2 separate regions of the Homo sapiens genome follow, and region 2 is linked to region 1. The links come from fine-mapping of genetic effects on gene expression. Tissue or cell type: whole blood. Region 1 holds a variant in brackets; the other region holds the start of a gene. All regions are shown on one strand. Distances are between the middles of the regions.

The links. PIP is the estimated chance that this variant, and not a neighbour inherited with it, causes the effect.
Region 2: it holds the start of CRADD, and the variant in region 1 is fine-mapped to the expression of CRADD in whole blood (TOPMed, PIP above 0.99).

Annotation. Positions count from the first base shown.
Region 1 is chr12:93,734,916-93,743,104 of GRCh38, forward strand. All of the region lies in intron 2 of CRADD (CARD and death domain containing adaptor protein), which reads left to right. CRADD-AS1 (CRADD antisense RNA 1) reads right to left here and starts at 2,908. Exons shown (of 3, transcript NR_110092.1): 1 at 2,784-2,908; 2 at 650-818. RefSeq lists enhancers at 6,403-7,359, 7,360-8,189 and silencers at 7,403-7,572, 7,603-7,692. The variant T/A (reference allele first, on the strand shown) is at 3,495.
Region 2 is chr12:93,673,932-93,682,105 of GRCh38, forward strand. It overlaps CRADD (CARD and death domain containing adaptor protein), which reads left to right and starts at 3,444. Exons shown (of 3, transcript NM_003805.5): 1 at 3,444-3,541; 2 at 4,838-5,141. The coding sequence starts at 4,844. RefSeq lists enhancers at 2,685-3,500, 3,289-3,528, 3,501-4,315, 5,132-5,946.

The DNA of each region.
Region 1 (8,189 bases):
CCCCTGCCAAGGTTAGGTCCCTGTACCATATGTGCTTTCTCATAGCACCCTGTGATTTTCCTTAATGACTCACCTATCACAATCCAGGATTTTGTTGACTGTCTGCCTCCCCTTCCTGTAAAGGTTAGAGGGTAAGCTCCATGGGGGCAGAACACTAGTTATGTCATTTTCACCGCTGTTTCCCTGGCTAGCACTGGGCCTCCTGTAGGCCCTCCAAAATATGCAAATAAATGAATGAACAAACACCCTGGCAGCATGGAAACCCAGAGCGGCACAAGCGAGTTCAAATGCTTATGGTTTGTTCCATCTCACTTCCCTCTAGGATGTGATTTTAGCAGTGTAGGCAGCTTACGAAATGGGGCAGGTTTCTTGTGTTTTACTAATGTGTAAATAAAGATAGAGTAACTCTTAAGATATGGAAAGTTTGTAAAGTGGCAGCAAAAAGTGACAAGGTGTGGGGATCCAAATACAGAGCCTAGGGAAAATAGAATAAACCAAGTTGTTTTTATGTCTCTTTTCCATTAGACTGTGAGCAAGCTGAAGTCGAGTCCCAGAACTTATTTATGTTTATATCCTCAAAGAGACTATAGTGCCTGGTTCATCGTAGCTGTGGAATAAATGTTGAATGAATGAATGATACACCTCTTACCTTTGAAGCTGACTTCTTGTGTTCTTCATGCTGACATTAGAAATAGGAAAAGTCAGTCGAGTACAGTAGTTCAAGCCTGTAATCCCAGCACTTTGGGAGACCAAGGCGAGAAGATCGCTTGAAGCCAAGAGTTTGAGCCCAGCCTGGGTGACAAAGTGAGACCCCATCTCTACAAAAAGAAAGAAAAGAAAGAAATTGGAACCGTATTATTTGTAGAAAAAATACTAGATCTAGAACCAGAGACACCTAGGTTAAAACTGATTTAAAATGAGAATAATTATTCCTACCAAGTGGAGTTGTTGGGAGGGTGGTATACATATAGATGGTGTATATAAAGTGCATAGCAAGCTGGTTGTGGTGGCTCAGGCCTGTATTTCCATCTAGTAGGAGGCCGAGGTGGGATGATCCCTTGAACCCTGGAGGCGGAGGTTGCAGTGAGCTGAGATCACGCCACTGCACTCCAGCCTGGGCAATAGAGGGAGACTCTGTCTCAAAAAGAAGTGCATAGCAAGCACCAGGCACATCTAACAGCTCCTCAGAACATTTAAGCTCCCCTTTTTTTGCTTCTTTCCCTTTGGTATAATTTTAGAAAGACTTTTGGGGAGCATGACATATAAATCATTAAAAAAGAGAGAGCCTCAAAGCAGAATCATGGCAATTGAGCTAGATTTGTATTTATCAAAGCAAGCATGATGCTGGGATGCTTAAATAACAGTACAGTACATTGCAAAGGAACTAGGGAATAATGTTCCTATTATTTTTGTCCATGGTCAGCCTATTACTAGAAAAGAGTGACCACATTGATTTCTAAAGTCCTTATATTCAAAACTTTCTGTGCTGACCACCATCATTTATGTTTTTCCCATCTCTACTTAAAAACGTCAACTAGCCCCAACTTTTCCTCTAGTTATTTCTTTTATTAGATTTATTCTGTTCTCCACAATAAAATCTATCTTCTGTTCCCATCCATGACAATTCAAGTAGTTATAATGGGTGGATATAGGGTATGATAAATGTTGGTAAATCCACTGAGTTCCTTGAGTTCCACATTGATGTCTTTTAGGATGTGACTAGGGGTAGGCTAAATATTTTCTAGTTTCTCAGATCCTACCCCTGGTCTAATTATGATATAGAGGCCAGATTAGTGTCACCAGTTTTTCTTTCTCTTCTGAATGTAGAGCAAGAGCAAATGATTGCAGATAACAGCATGAGAAACTTAGGATCAACCACCAGCATCTAAGTGAGTCTTGTACTAGGCTCATTCCAGTTAAAAGCTGTAAATCATTTCATAGCCACATCAGTTTAGTTCTCTTTTATAGAACTCATTATGTGATACAAAATATGCAAGGCACTGGAGATACAAATACAATTATTTCCTCAAGGAACTTTGAGTTGAGCAAACATGGTACTGTCTGGTGAGACCAGACATATGAGCAAACATAGTACTTCTCTGGTGAGACCACATAGAGAAATGTACAAGGGGTAGAGGAGGCAGTGATGACTACTGGTCTGGGATAGTTGAGGGAAGGTGGCATAGGCTGCCTATTGAAGAATAAATTAGAGTTTGCTATGTGAACAAGGTTGCAGAGGGAATAGTATATGGAAAAACAGGGAGATGTGGACCCATATATTTTGTGCAGAGATGTCCAAGTACTTAGATATTACTATATTGCAAGTATGAAGAAAGCTTTTTTTGAGATCTGACAATGCCAAGGTAGGTTATGGACTCTCTTTGGAGTCCCCAAAATAAAAATAAAACATTCACATCTGCTAAAGATAGCTTGAATGGTATTTTTGCTAAAGGCAGAGTCATATACTGTATGTGCCAGATAAAAGTCAATGTCTATTATGTAAACATTGAGATTACATTAATTAATTTAAAAGAAAGGATTCAAACTTAGTACTAATCTGCATCTGGAGAACTAATCTGGTATGTGTTATTTTCAAGTCACCCAACTAAAGCAGTCTGTTGTATGGAACTCTGCTCCCTCTTAGTCAAACAAATGCAACCATAAAAAGCAGTGCAAATTCAGTGTCACCTTTTCTCCATGGGATTGGGTGGTTTCTTTTGGAGCAGAGAGAGTTTCCAGAGAATCAATATAGTAGCCAGAAGAAAAGTGGAGGGTGGCCTTACCTTGTCCACTCCGTGCTGCCTGAGGGTGAAATGGAACCTCGGATGTTGTACACCTTTAAATTGTCCATGTTGCCTGTTTCATAGCCTTCCCGGGCCAGGGAGCTGTGTAGTCAGTTTATAGTTCTAAGAACCAGAGCAGGACTGCTGTGCTTGTAATTGCATGCTTTTTATGGAACAGGCAATGTTGTTTAGGGAATTTGGGCAGCTGGAACCTGCCACATTAGCAATTTGGACTGAGGAAGAATTTCAGGGTGATAAAATAAAGCTCATTATATAAATTCACTTGGGTATTTAGGAGGCTGAGAAGGGAGAGGATGAGAGTATTCCAAAGGCAAGCAGGAGAGTTTCATAAACAGGTCCCTTTCTATTCGTTTTTACTGTAAGTGTTGAATTGAGCTAGGAGGATCACATGGCCCATTTTGCAAAGGGCAGTCATGTTCTGCTGTTTCTTAGCTGTTTTGTCAGTTGGAACAAAACAACAGCGCTGCTCATTTTTTGCAGGGTTAGAGGAAAAAGGAAGGACTGGCCGAAGAATGGGGTGGGGAGCTGGAGAAGAGAAGGGCCAAAAGTGTCAGACTGTGGGGATGAGGACCTGAAGGAGGCCCATGAGACCTCAGGCATGGGCCCTGGAACTCTGCCTTTTTGAAGCCTGTTGACAATCTCACCCTAATTTAACCCTTTGTGGAATTCTTCCATGAGATGCAGTTGCCA[T/A]CATCAGGCTTCCTAGAGAATTGAGCCTGCCCACTCTGTTATGAAGTCTACCCAGAAGAGCTGGCAGAGTAGGCCCCTTCACTGGGACTGCAGCAACACTGACCAAAGCAAATCCTTCTCTTGGAAGAAACAAACTCATTCCTCACACCTGCCTCACCCCGCTCCCACCGCCACCCCCTGCACCACACGCCAGCCCTTAATAAAAACTAAAACTGATGTCATTGTAACCTTTGGTTATTCTTTTTTGTGCGTAAAGTGTCAACCTCCTGTTTTATTCTCATAAATAATGGAAATCTTAACTTCATTTCAGAAAATCACAAAAGATAACAGGGACCCTATTCAAACAGAATAAAAATAATTAGTAAGTCACAAACTCTGACTAGAAAGAAAAAGAGAAGAGAGAGAGGGAAGGAGAAAGAAAGAAGGAAAGAGAGGGAGAGAGAGAAACGAGGAAAGGAAGGAAGGAAGAAAGTGAAAGAAGAAAGTCCTCTTGTTGGTGTTAAAATGTGTCTTTAAGGGGAAACTTATCATTTAGGTTACTAATGGTTTCTTTCTTCATCATTTTAATTTCCATTAATAAAATGTGACTTTGAAAGGATGCAGGGAGTTTGGGAATAGAGAGTTTTATTTTTATTTGTTTATTTTTTTTCCCCTTCTCCCAGCAAAATACACAGGTATCTGACTATGTAGAGACACGAAGCCACCTATCCTGACCAAACTTGGCAGTGGTCAGGGGATAGGAGGAAGTGTAGTGCCATGGGATGGGCACCAGCCCTGATGAACTCGACTTTCTTTCCATTTCTCTCCTGCATCCAAATGTTGAGGAGACTTTGAGTAGTAGTGTAGCCTCTTTTCCTTTTAAAAATCTGCACCCTGCTTATTTCCAATACAGATATGAGGTTGGTACCCACTAATCTTAACAGGATATATATATATATATCTAAAGTATATAACATATTATTTAAAAACTAATGTATTATTTAGGTTTTATTAAATTATCCTGTTTTTAGGCTATGCTGATGGGCTAAATTTGCCTAAACTCCTGAGATTTAGATTCTCATTTATTGGCATTAGAGGAGTTCCTAAAAAAAAAAAGCTATTAAGATTAAATATCATAAAAATCTTTCTAGGAAAATATAATCAAAAGCATCAAGGCTGTCTCCTACAGTTAGTGGTTTCTATTATTTTGGTTCTCAGAGCTATGACAATGTCACTGGATTTCAAGAATTCAGAAAGACAAAAAGAAAACTCATAATTTTGAAATGGGGAAAGGGAAAGATCTTGGACATAGTCTTCTGTTTTTAAAATAGTCATTCTCATTTTAAAATAGGAAAAAAATTATTTTTCATTTAACAAAGCAAAAAACCCAGTCTGTACTTTTAAATTAATGCAAACATCAATATTTTATAGGGAGAACATTAATAATCATTGTGGAGCCCATTAATCACAATTCTGCTTTTGATTTATTGTAAATATGCCTCCCATTTTCCTCCTCATTACCAATCACCTTCTTTAATTATAAGAGGGCTTTCATTAAAACTTTTGAATCATTTATTTTGGAGCACCTAACTTTAGAAGACATTTATTGATTTTTATAGCATAAAATACAAATGTTTTTATTTTAGAAAACATCATAAACTAAAACTTTATTGGAGGAGTTTGGCTAAAGATTCAAAAATATATAGAAGTAAAAATATATTTAAAACTGCACAGTTTTTACAACAGCATGTATGGCATTTGGATTCAGAATTTTAACTAGCAGTAACCTCATCTGTTTAGTAATGAATTTTAAAATAGAAAAAAAATCTGCCAAAACAGACCAGTTGTTTATTAGCTATTTAACTTTGATGAGCTGAAATGAGATAGTGAAGCAGAATAATTAGAACAACTTTTTTTCTCAACATCTAAATATTTCTCTTTTTCATTAACATTTCAGTTAAGTTTGAAGAAATTCCAAAAATGAGATTCTCATTAACTAAAAGGAATTCTAAGGGTTATAAGCCATCTACATTTTTTCTATGACCTGAAGACTTTTTTTCGAAAACCAATTTTGGGGGAGGATTGTCAGATTTACCTAAGGTTTTGGTTTTTAATTTAAAAAAATTTAAAGAAACTATCTTAGTGATTTTTGTCATCATTTTTATTTGTTGCCATGATTAATATATGGAAATAAGATAAATTGGATTCTATTTCTGTGAAAGCCATATTCTTAACATCAATGCCTACCTAAAAAATATACGAGTCACACTTGATCATTCAGAATCATTTTGAAATTCTCTGGTAATCTTTTAAAAAGCCAGCGTTGACTAGTATTATGTGGCTAGTTATATTTATTACAGCAGTCTAGTTATTGTTTGTGTAACTATAGTTTTTTTCTAATAGAAATAAAATGTCTATTTGCAGGATAAAAAGAAGTATGTATATTTGATGATTTTGTTGTAGAAAATACTTAATACCTTTTAAAAGCTGTTTGACTTTCGGTTTTAAAACAGCTGTGTAGCTTGGTGAGTCCTGCAGATTCCGGCTTTCTCTGTGGCCTTTGAGCCAAGTAATTTTTTGCAACATTTTCCTTTGCTTTCTTATAAACACTCAAAAATTATACTTGCTTTTCCTGAAGGCCAGCTATTAAGTTAGAAAGCACCAAAGGTGTTATGAAATTGCCCTTTATTTTTTCGTACATCAGGGAGGAATGATAGATTTTGTGTATCTCTTGTGTGTCATTAGAACAGAAATATTTAGGGCTGCTAACTCCCGGAGTTGTGTACTTACCCTTATTACAGATGCAATGATTTTGTCTGACTGCATTGCTTTAAGATGAGTTTTATTGCTTTCATGCTTAGGCAAGGATATTTAATTTTATTTGTGTTTAGAGTATCTTGTTGTAATATACTTCTCCCCCATCTTGTGCTCCTAAATTTGGGATAAGCATAGAATCCTTTTAAGAATGTAGGTTATTTTCCAGTTTACTAGAAAGCATGACACATATAAATTAGCGACTAAGGATTATAGCGTCCTTTCCTAAAGGTTATCATGAAAAAAAGTTAAAATGTCAAAGAAGATCCTACTCCAGTAAAAACAATTTACTCTGTAAAATCCTGATACCTCATAGGAAGCTTTGGATCTTGTTCTCAGCTACCAAAATTCTTTAAATATGAAAGTTAACATGACAGGAAAGTGGAATACACTCTGTGCTGAAGACCCACTGTTCAAGGTGTGTGGTTATTAATCTGGGTTTGAATTTACAAATTATATGGTCTGATTAATTTGTAGATAGGGGTCGGTGGAGGTTAGACGATGGGCTTTAGAACAAAGAGGCTGATAAAATACTACTCACAAGCCTTTCTGCTTGTTTGTGACTCTCTGGAAATGCCATTAGATAGTTCTCATAGCTATGGTCAAAATAAGTAGGCTTAGAAATAAAAGACATTTTCTCCCCTGTAAAAGGAGGCGGCTGGCCTGTGCTCTTTCTAGGCTCTTCCCAGAGACAGCAACCTCGGCTTCTGAACCCTTAGTGCTCATTCTATGCTCCACCGCGTCTCCTCTACACGCCATGATCTTTGTTATCTGATTTGCTAGCCATTGTTATGGAAAGTTCTCGACTGTAATGCAAAAAGCTCAGCCTTGGGTCCTTGCTAATGTCAGCAACCCAAAGGCGCCCCTCAAACCACCTCGAAAAGAAAAATCCTTTAAAAGATGTCAAACTCTCCTTTCATGTTAGCCCAAAATGAAGTTCCCGAGCAGCATCTGGCAGAGCAGGGTAATTCAATCTATTTTAATGCAAAGATTTTCCAAGAAGGCAGGAAGCCGTCAAGGAGAAGGCTTTGAGGCATCTGCTGTTTTGTTTCCAGATCCCTTGTGTTAATTTAATGTTTCTAGGGAACCCGGCTCTTTCTTTTTTCTCGGAATCCCTGCTCTAGGAACTGGTGAGTGCGGGGGCGCTGTGGGAGCTGCAGATAAGCCAGCGCTTGGCCGGGCACCCGCGGGCCGCGCAGCGGGGCAGGGAGGCGCGCGGCCCCAGCCGCCCTAGGGCGCCGGCTGCCTCTGCGGGCCCCGGCTGCCCAGCCCAGCGCGGGGAGGCGGCGCCGACTGCCGGGGGGCGCCTGCAAGACCTGTTTATTTGCATTTGTCCAATTTGGCTCAAGTGAAAGGTAAATACGGAGCGATCAGCTTGTCCTCACTCCAGCAAAACCAGGGAAACTCAGCTCCATCTCCAGGAAACAAACCCAACCCAAACCTGAGTGAAACGTAAATCTTGCATAAACAAACACGTTCTTTTGCTTCTGGGAAGGAACACCGGAGAAATGGGCATTCCTTCCGACTGCCCGCCTCCCACTGTCGGTAAAAATGAGCCGTCACAGGTTGCCGGCAATTTCTTGTTGTGTCCCGAGCCATTCCGCGGATCTTGTTTTGAAGGGGCGAGTCAGGTGTTTGTGCGGCTCCAGATCCTGAACAGGTTATGCGCTGGGTCCTTCCTTATCAGGAGGGGGGTCAGGCTGCCCTCCCATTCTCATCTTCCGCCCCAGACCAGAGGCTACACCAAAGTTCACTTTTGAAAAGAAATCCTGCAGAATTAAAAATAAATGTCTGCCCTTTAAAATAGTTTCGTTTTAGTATTATGCATATTTCTGTTTAGGAACTTGTAATGCTAATAATTTATGTTGCTATGACAATTGTCCTGCATACCTAATATTAAAT
Region 2 (8,174 bases), 61 kb before region 1:
TATTTTGCAAACTCACAATAGGGATATCTTGACACAAGTAAACATACTAGGGGAGAGAGAAAAATGAAAATATCTGTCCTTCCTGTGGATTCGTTACCACTGGGTAACAGGTGCTTAATCCTCCGTGGGGGCACAATTTCAGATTACAGAGGGTCTGGCCAGAGCGGAGGAGTAACCACCTGTGATAATGATTCTGATCTGTGTTCCATTCCTTAGAAGCCCTCTGGCCTTAGCTAATCTGTCTAAGTAAAGTTGGGTCTTTGGTGTACTGCCATGAAGTATCGCTGTATGCTGAGGTGGGGTGGCTGATGGCAGTGGGCTAGTCGTTCAGCCTAGTTGCTTAAGAGACAGCATGGATCCTCATCTGTATTTGCCATGGGAAGAGGCATTCGATGATTAAAGACTTCACGCTGCAGATTTAAGTCAGATCTTTAATGGCCACCCTTTCAGGTTGTTTACCATAGGACGCCATGCCCCTCGGCTGCTGCCCTGACACTCTCCTGCTGTCTCTGGCTGCTTCTCTTCTGTGAACCCTCACGGATCCTATTGTTGGTTCCCCACCTCCTCCTGGGCATCATCATCAAGGCTCACCTTCTAGCTTCTAGGAGATCTCAAGCCTTTCCAAATATGATGAGTCATCAAGAAATATGAAACTTTATATGGGCGTTTATTGCGCTATTTGTTTCAACTTTCCTATATGTTTGAAATTTATCGAAGTTCACAGTTAGAAAAAAATCCACTTGCTTTTCCTCTCTAAAAAAGTTAGTATAGGTTGATGATCCCTTACCCAACATGCTTGGGACCAGAAGTGTTTTGGATTTTGGATTTTTTGGGATTTTGGAATATTTGCATATACATAATGAGGTAACTTGGGGATGGGACCCAAGTTTAAGCACAAAACTTATGTTTCATATATACTTTTTATACACATAGCCTGAAAGTAACTTTATACAATATTTTAAATAATTTTGCACATGAAACAAAGGTTTGTGTTTTGACTGAGACCCATCACATAAGGTCAGGTGTGGAATTTTCCACTTGTGGCGTCATGTTGACACCCAAAAAGCTTCAGGTTTTGGAGCATTTCTTTTTCTTTCTTTTTTTTTTTTTTTCTGAGACAGGGTCTCTCTCTGTCGCCCAGGCCGGAGTGCAGTGGCATGATCTTGTTTCACTGCAAACTCCACCTCCCGGGTTCAATTGATTCTCCACCTCAGCCTCCTGAGAAGCTGGGACTACAGGCGTACACAAGCATGGCTGGCTAATTTTTTGTATTTTTTGTAGAGATGGGATTTCCCTATGTTGCCCAGGCTGGCCCTGAACTCCTGGGCTCAAACGATCTGCCTGCCTTGGCTTCCCAAAATGCTGAGATTACAGGTGTCAGCCACCACTCTCAGGCAGGTTTTGGAGGATTCTGGATTTCAAATTTTTGTATTAGGGATGTTTAACCTGTAAACTTCAACGCTTGGCAGTGTTGCAAGTGGTCTGCACTTTATCTGGATGAAGACAAAGAATGGTGCTAACATTTGTCTATGAACAGATGGGAAATCTTGCTGAGGAAAGGACAATGATTCTCAAGCAAAAGGGGAAAAGGGAGAGAGAAAAGAGAGCACCTGGAACTCAAGAGTATCAAGAATGGGAGGTGGCAACAGGATGATTTGCAAATAATATTTGGCTATCATTAGAACAATAAACTCTTCACTATACAAGGTTGTATGGTGTATTGGAAAGAGCATGAAATCAGAGAAACTTCATTAGACTTCAAGTTTTGCTCTATATTAGCTGTGAGATTTTGCCTAAGACAATTGACCATTCTGATTCCACAGTCTTTATACATGCAAATGCTAAAACAGTTGTAACAGTGGAGATACATTGTGAAAAATGTGTCATTGTGCAAACAAAATAGGATGTACTTATGCAAACCTAGATGGTATAGCCTACTACATACTTAGGCCATATAGCATAGCCTATTGCTCTGACCACCATCATATATGCAGTCTGTCATTGACCCAAATATTGTTATGCAATGCATGACTGTAATAATAATAATACTTGCCACATAGGTAAAAATACTGTCATTAACGGTGTAGTAAAATGGTAACTGGCATAGTAATGCTGTAAATTGAATACAATTTTTAGAAGGTTTTGAGGAGGGAGGTTCAGAACTGTTCTCCATTGATTTGCTTAACAAAGATATTTTCATTTTCCACCAAAGGGTTTGGCTGTGAAAACCTTTGCAGAAATAATATTTTAGGAGTTTTTTCCCCCTGTACTGTCAACTGATTTTTAGTAAGCATATGACTTTCTGTATGTATCATCCAATTGATTTAAAAATGAATCAATGAATGTATTTATTGATCGCCTGCCTCGCTTCACAAAGGAATGTGAGGAAGGACACCCAATTTGGCATTGCTGTGTTTCTCTGTATTTGGGTCATGCATTTTTTCTTGCTTTCCACATTGAAAATGTGGTGGATGCAGTAGATTGGCTTTAAGTGTCAGGCCTTCCCTCATTTACTATACCTTTTTGTGTTTCACAAGCTGGAAAGCTACCAACTACATGCTCTAGACATCCTTGCTGCTAATATTCTGCATGTCAGATTGGTCTCACCAATGGCACGCAGCAAAGCAAGATTTGCAGGTGCTGTTTTCTTGCTGCTGGCAAATGCAGCCGTGGAGACCACCGTTTTTTGCAGCACTGTTCCAGTGTCCTGTTAATTGTTCTGTCGGTGTTGAGAGGAGGTTGGGGACCAGGCATGGCAACTTCCTGACGCCATCTTCCTGATTGTGGGCAGCAGCCACAATCAGCAATCTTATCTAGGTAGTCATCCATGGATGTTCAGCTCAGCCCTTCTCCAGCCTTTCCAATGATTTCGAATGTCCCCAATTCCCCCTAACGAATCCCTTTCTGACTAGGAGTAACTAGCTGAGTGCTGCAATGAAATCCTGACTGACAGATTTGTAAACTCTTTGCGGGCAGGAACCCTTGATATAAATAAATGACCTTGCATTTTAATGGAGGGAAGCAGAAGGATAAACAAATGAATAAGTGAAAAGTTTTAATAAGATGGTGATGCGTAAAAAATAAAGCTGGTTAATGGGGAGTGCAGGAAATGAGCGCAGCTGTCTTGCCGTTTTAATCAGATAGGTCAGAGAAGGCTTCTCTACTAGGGTGGCTTTTGACCTGCCTCTCTGTTAGGTCAATTGTGTGCGAGGCCCTGATGGAGTTACTGTGTTAAAATGCAATGATTCAATTACTCCATTACTTAGATACCCTTTAAGTGACACTACGGTTGTCCATCTCCCCGCTATTGAATTGTTTACCCACAGTAAGCATGGCGGGAAGAGCTTCGATCCGACCCTTGAACGCTCAATAAAAATGGCGACAGCACTTCCTGTACTTGCCCTCAACAAAGATGGTGTCAACACTTCCTGTTTAGGGTTTTCGCCATTAACAAAGATGGTGCTTATGGGGCAGGTTCCCTAACAGTCAGGATTCCGGTTGCAGTTTTTCTCCCCCGCCCCAAAGATACGTGGTTGCAGACGTAAGTAACAGGAATCCATCTTTCTTTGAAAGTCCTGCATTGTAGCGTCTGCGACCTGGGCCCTGCGGGGGCTTCCCCGCCCCGCTAACTTGCTCCGCATTTCCGATCCGGGCCAAGGCTGGGTGGCTGCGGCAGTGCCGGAGGCCCGCTCTCCCCTTGGTCCGCTCTTTAGTTCATTCCCAGCACTCCCTCTTTAGCGGGTCAAGTTGCCGCAGAAACCGCCCGTAGTCTTCCTGTTTGATACAAGGGTTTCAGCGGCCGAAGCAGAGCCTTTTTAAATAGTTCCCAATGGGCGCTCACGGCCAAACGTGAACACCTCCCCTCCTCACCTGTCACCTCCTGAACTTTACAGGGTTGCGAGGGGGAGTGTGGGATCGGGTGTCGCCTAGCCGTGGTCGTACTGCCCGGGTGTGTCTGAAGCCCCATCTGTCATCCCTGCCTGCCTTCCCGGTCACTTAACCTTCACTGCCTTACACACAACCAAGCCACAGCACACTGGTGCAGGGGTGGTGGAACTGCACCTTCAAATCGTGCCTGGCTACTGACCAGTGCTGGGGTGTGTGCTTTTTTTGAAAGAAAAAAATCCCATAAAATGTCCCATGCATGTGCGGCCACGACAGTGTTGTGCTGGAGATTCGGAATTCTTAGTGGGAAGGAATGGAGTCTGTGACTGTATATTGTGTAAAGTTTATTGTAGACTGGGCACAAACAACAATTTTCTTAAAGGTGATCGTGTAGAGGACTTTTAGCGAAAAGAGCCTTAAATTCTGAACCTGCTGATTTCTGTCCTGCACTCCTATTACTGATCAGGTTTTGCAAATACTTGTGATCAAAAAAAGGGGACCTGCGTCCACCTTGGCAGTTTCTGCCTTGGTGGTGGTGGTGCAGGTCTGATGAGGGCAATGTGAAAATAAAACCACCATTTCTTCTCCAGCGTGTTAAAATTAGTGCTGCTCTGTAATCTTCAGATAAAAATTGCTTGTTCAGAAGGGTCTCTGACCCACTTTTTTTTTTTCTTTTTCCAAATTTCTTTATTGAACGAGGAATTGAGCTGGGACCCCATTGTGTGAAAAGCAGAAACAGAAAAGATGATTCATCTTCATTGTTGTTCATTATGTTAGGAAACATTCAAAATTAACCTGGCTTGGCTTAATCAGTGAATTAAATACCATGACCTGGCAGTCTGCTATGGTTTAAAGATGTGCTTGACCTGAAGGAACTTACATTGCAGTGACACTGTCTTTAGGGCCACATCAACATGTCTGTAATTTGAGCTGTGATTTTGGCTCTTTCCAGGGAGAAATGGAGGCCAGAGACAAACAAGTACTCCGCTCACTTCGCCTGGAGCTGGGTGCAGAGGTATTGGTGGAGGGACTGGTTCTTCAGTACCTCTACCAGGAAGGAATCTTGACGGAAAACCATATTCAAGAAATCAATGCTCAAACCACAGGCCTCCGGAAAACAATGCTCCTGCTGGATATCCTACCTTCCAGGGGCCCTAAAGCATTTGATACATTCCTAGATTCCCTACAGGAGTTTCCCTGGGTCAGGGAGAAGCTGAAGAAGGCAAGGGAAGAGGCCATGACCGACCTGCCTGCAGGTAGGCCTCAGAAAGATCACTTTGAACCAGCTCCAAAATGTTGTAACTATGCTCTTTGCTTTTTTGTTTATTTGTTTGTTTGTTTTTGAGACAGAGTCTTGCTCTGTTGCCCAGGCTGGAGTGCAATGGTGTGATCTCGGCTCACTGCAACCTCTGCTTCCTGGGTTCAAGCAATTCACTTGCTTCAGCCTCCCGAGTTGCTGGGAATACAGGCATTTGCCACCATGCCCTGCTAAGTTTTGTATTTTTAGTAGAGATGGGGTTTCATCATGTTGGCCAGGCTGGTCTCGAACTCCGTACCTCAGGTGATCCACCCACCTCCGCCTCCCAAAGTGCTGGGATTACAGACGTGAGCCACCACACCTAGCCAGAACTATGCCCTTTGGATTTGAAGTTGGGATGTAAGGCAGGACAAGGGTCAATGGTTGATGAAAGTGGGTAAGGATTTGGGACTGAAGGGACATGACGTTGGAGGAATAGGATCAGGAGGTGGCATTAGGAAGTGCAGGGAAGGAAGAATGAACCGTGACTGGGAGGTGAGGGAGGGAGCTCAGAGAATGCATTTAGAAATGCTTCCAGGAAACCTGGCATGTCACTTGGGAAGCATGTTCTCATCAGAGAGCCAGGTCATATCTCAGCCGTTGGCATCAGGAGCCATTTGGAAAGTGCAGATGGGAAAGCAGGCATTCGGCCTACTGACAACTGATTTGTGAGGTGCCAGAGCTACCAGCTGGAAAAGGTCAGATTCATGGAGGAGGAGACAGCCTCTAGGAAGGCATGCCCTGCACCTGTCCCCTGGGCTGTCCTGTGTGGCCAAAGGGGATTATTTTGAAGGCTGACTTAGTTTGTTTTTAAAGGTTATTCGTTTAAAGTGTCCTTTTTAGTTTAGCTTTGTTCAGACACTGGAGTATTTAATTTTGCAAAGAGCAATAGTTTGGGGAGGGTCTCAGTTTAATTTGAAGGAGAATTGGAAGCTGGAGAAGAGAGAAACAGTTCTGGTTCTGTTAGCCTGGCTTGTAGCAGGAAGAAGATGTGATATGGAAACACTTGCTTTTTCTTAACCTCCCTTGACTCTGTTTCACAAAGATAGAGGGGCAGAGAACTGAACTGGCAAAAATTAAAAATTGAAAAAAAAAAGTAATTGAAAGTTGGCTTGCAAATTTTTAACAAAGTTAGAGAATCAAGGTTCTCTGGGGTTTCTGATAAGAGTGATAGAACTATTCCGGTTCAGTGGGCCCCAGACTTCGTGGTTGCTATTTTTTAAATACTGGTTAAAAAAAATGAATACTGATAATAAGACCACTTTTACTATTTTTGCTCCATGGACCTCATATTTTGACATATGTCTGAATACCTGATCAGCATGACATAGCCAGCTAACTTTAGGAAGACCTGGTAAGATCCCAGTGGAAAAAGCAAAAGTATTTTCATTCCTAGTCTGGGCTCGTTACAGTTAAATGTATCTTTAGGCTTTTTGAAATATTAGACATAGCTGGCTTTTGAGGACCACTGGAATTCACTGCTTGGATTGTCCTTACAAAATTAAATACTCCACATGTCTGAACAAAATGTATCTAGATGTTTTTATGACTTTATTGAAAGCAGAATAGATAACATAGAGTTGGAGAAATGTTAAAAAATTATTGGTGTTTTCCTGATATTTGACTTAGAGGTTTCTGCTGGCATCATATAGTTGGAAACAACAAAACAGGTGAACTGAAAGCCTTTCACTATCAAAATACTGAATTTAATTTTATGGTCATTTTGGGTGATACAGATCATGCTGTTGTATGTCATTCGTAGAGGTATAATACCATTTTTTTTTTTTTGAGACGGAGTTTCACTCTTGTTGCCCAGGCTGGAGTGCAATGGCGCGATCTCGGCTCTCTGCAACCTCTGCCTCCCGGGTTTAAGCAATTCTTCTGCCTCAGCCTCCCGAGTAGCTGGGATTACAGGCATGTGCCACCATGCTCGGCTAATTTTGTATTTTTAGTAGAGATGGGGTTTCTCCATGTTGGTCAGGCTGGTCTTAAACTCCCGACCTCAGGTGATCCGCCCACCTCGGCCTCCCAAAGTGCTGGGATTACAGGCGTGAGCCACCATGCTCGGCCATAACCCCATTATTTCTTCAGATTCATTCAGAGAGTTAGAAAGAATTAAGGCATTTTTTACAAAATGATGAGAGTTACAGAGAAGCTGAGGAAAAATAGCTTTTTAAAAAAGCAAACAGAATGAAGCAGTACATAATGGGAAAAAAATTGAGCATATCTGTGTAGAAGTTTAGAAAAATAAGGTTTTTCTCAAGATTTGTTAATTCTGTAGAAGGTTGGCTCTGGAACAAATTCGTACAGTCATCTTAATTGTTTTACTTTTTACTGAGTAACACTGCTATTGAAAAAAACATTCTGAAGTGAGGGTTTGATTTATATATGTCTTTGAATACCTTCCACGGTGACAATCACATAAACTCTTTTAAAAAAGACTTGTATTTATTAAATATTGACTATTTTAAATAATATTACAAAATATAAGTAAGATATGGAGAATAATGGTACAGCGAACACCCGTCTCCTCATCACTCAGTTTAAGAAAAATAATATTACGATTGCCTTTAAAAACCCCGGGCACTCCTTCCCAATCTTGTCTCATTCCCAACCCCCACGCAGTGAAAAGCCCTGAATTGGGGGTTTATCATTCATTCACTTCTTCACTTTATAGTTTCCTATCTCCTAAAAATCACTTTTAAAATCTTCATATGTTTTTGAAAATCCTGTATACCGTAAGTTCTAGAGGTGTGTGTGTGTGTATATGTATATATGTATATAGAGAGAGATATATATGTTTTTTGTGTGTGTGGGAAGGAAAGGGTGGAAGTAATGGAAGAAATTATGCATTTAAACTTGATAGTTAACACCTTCTCTTGTTTCAGAACTTAAAATATTTTTTACATGTTTAAAGTAATTTAATTGGTGGCAATATTTTAATTCTAAAATTAAATTGGGATTTACTGAATTGGAAACCTAGGTTTTGTTA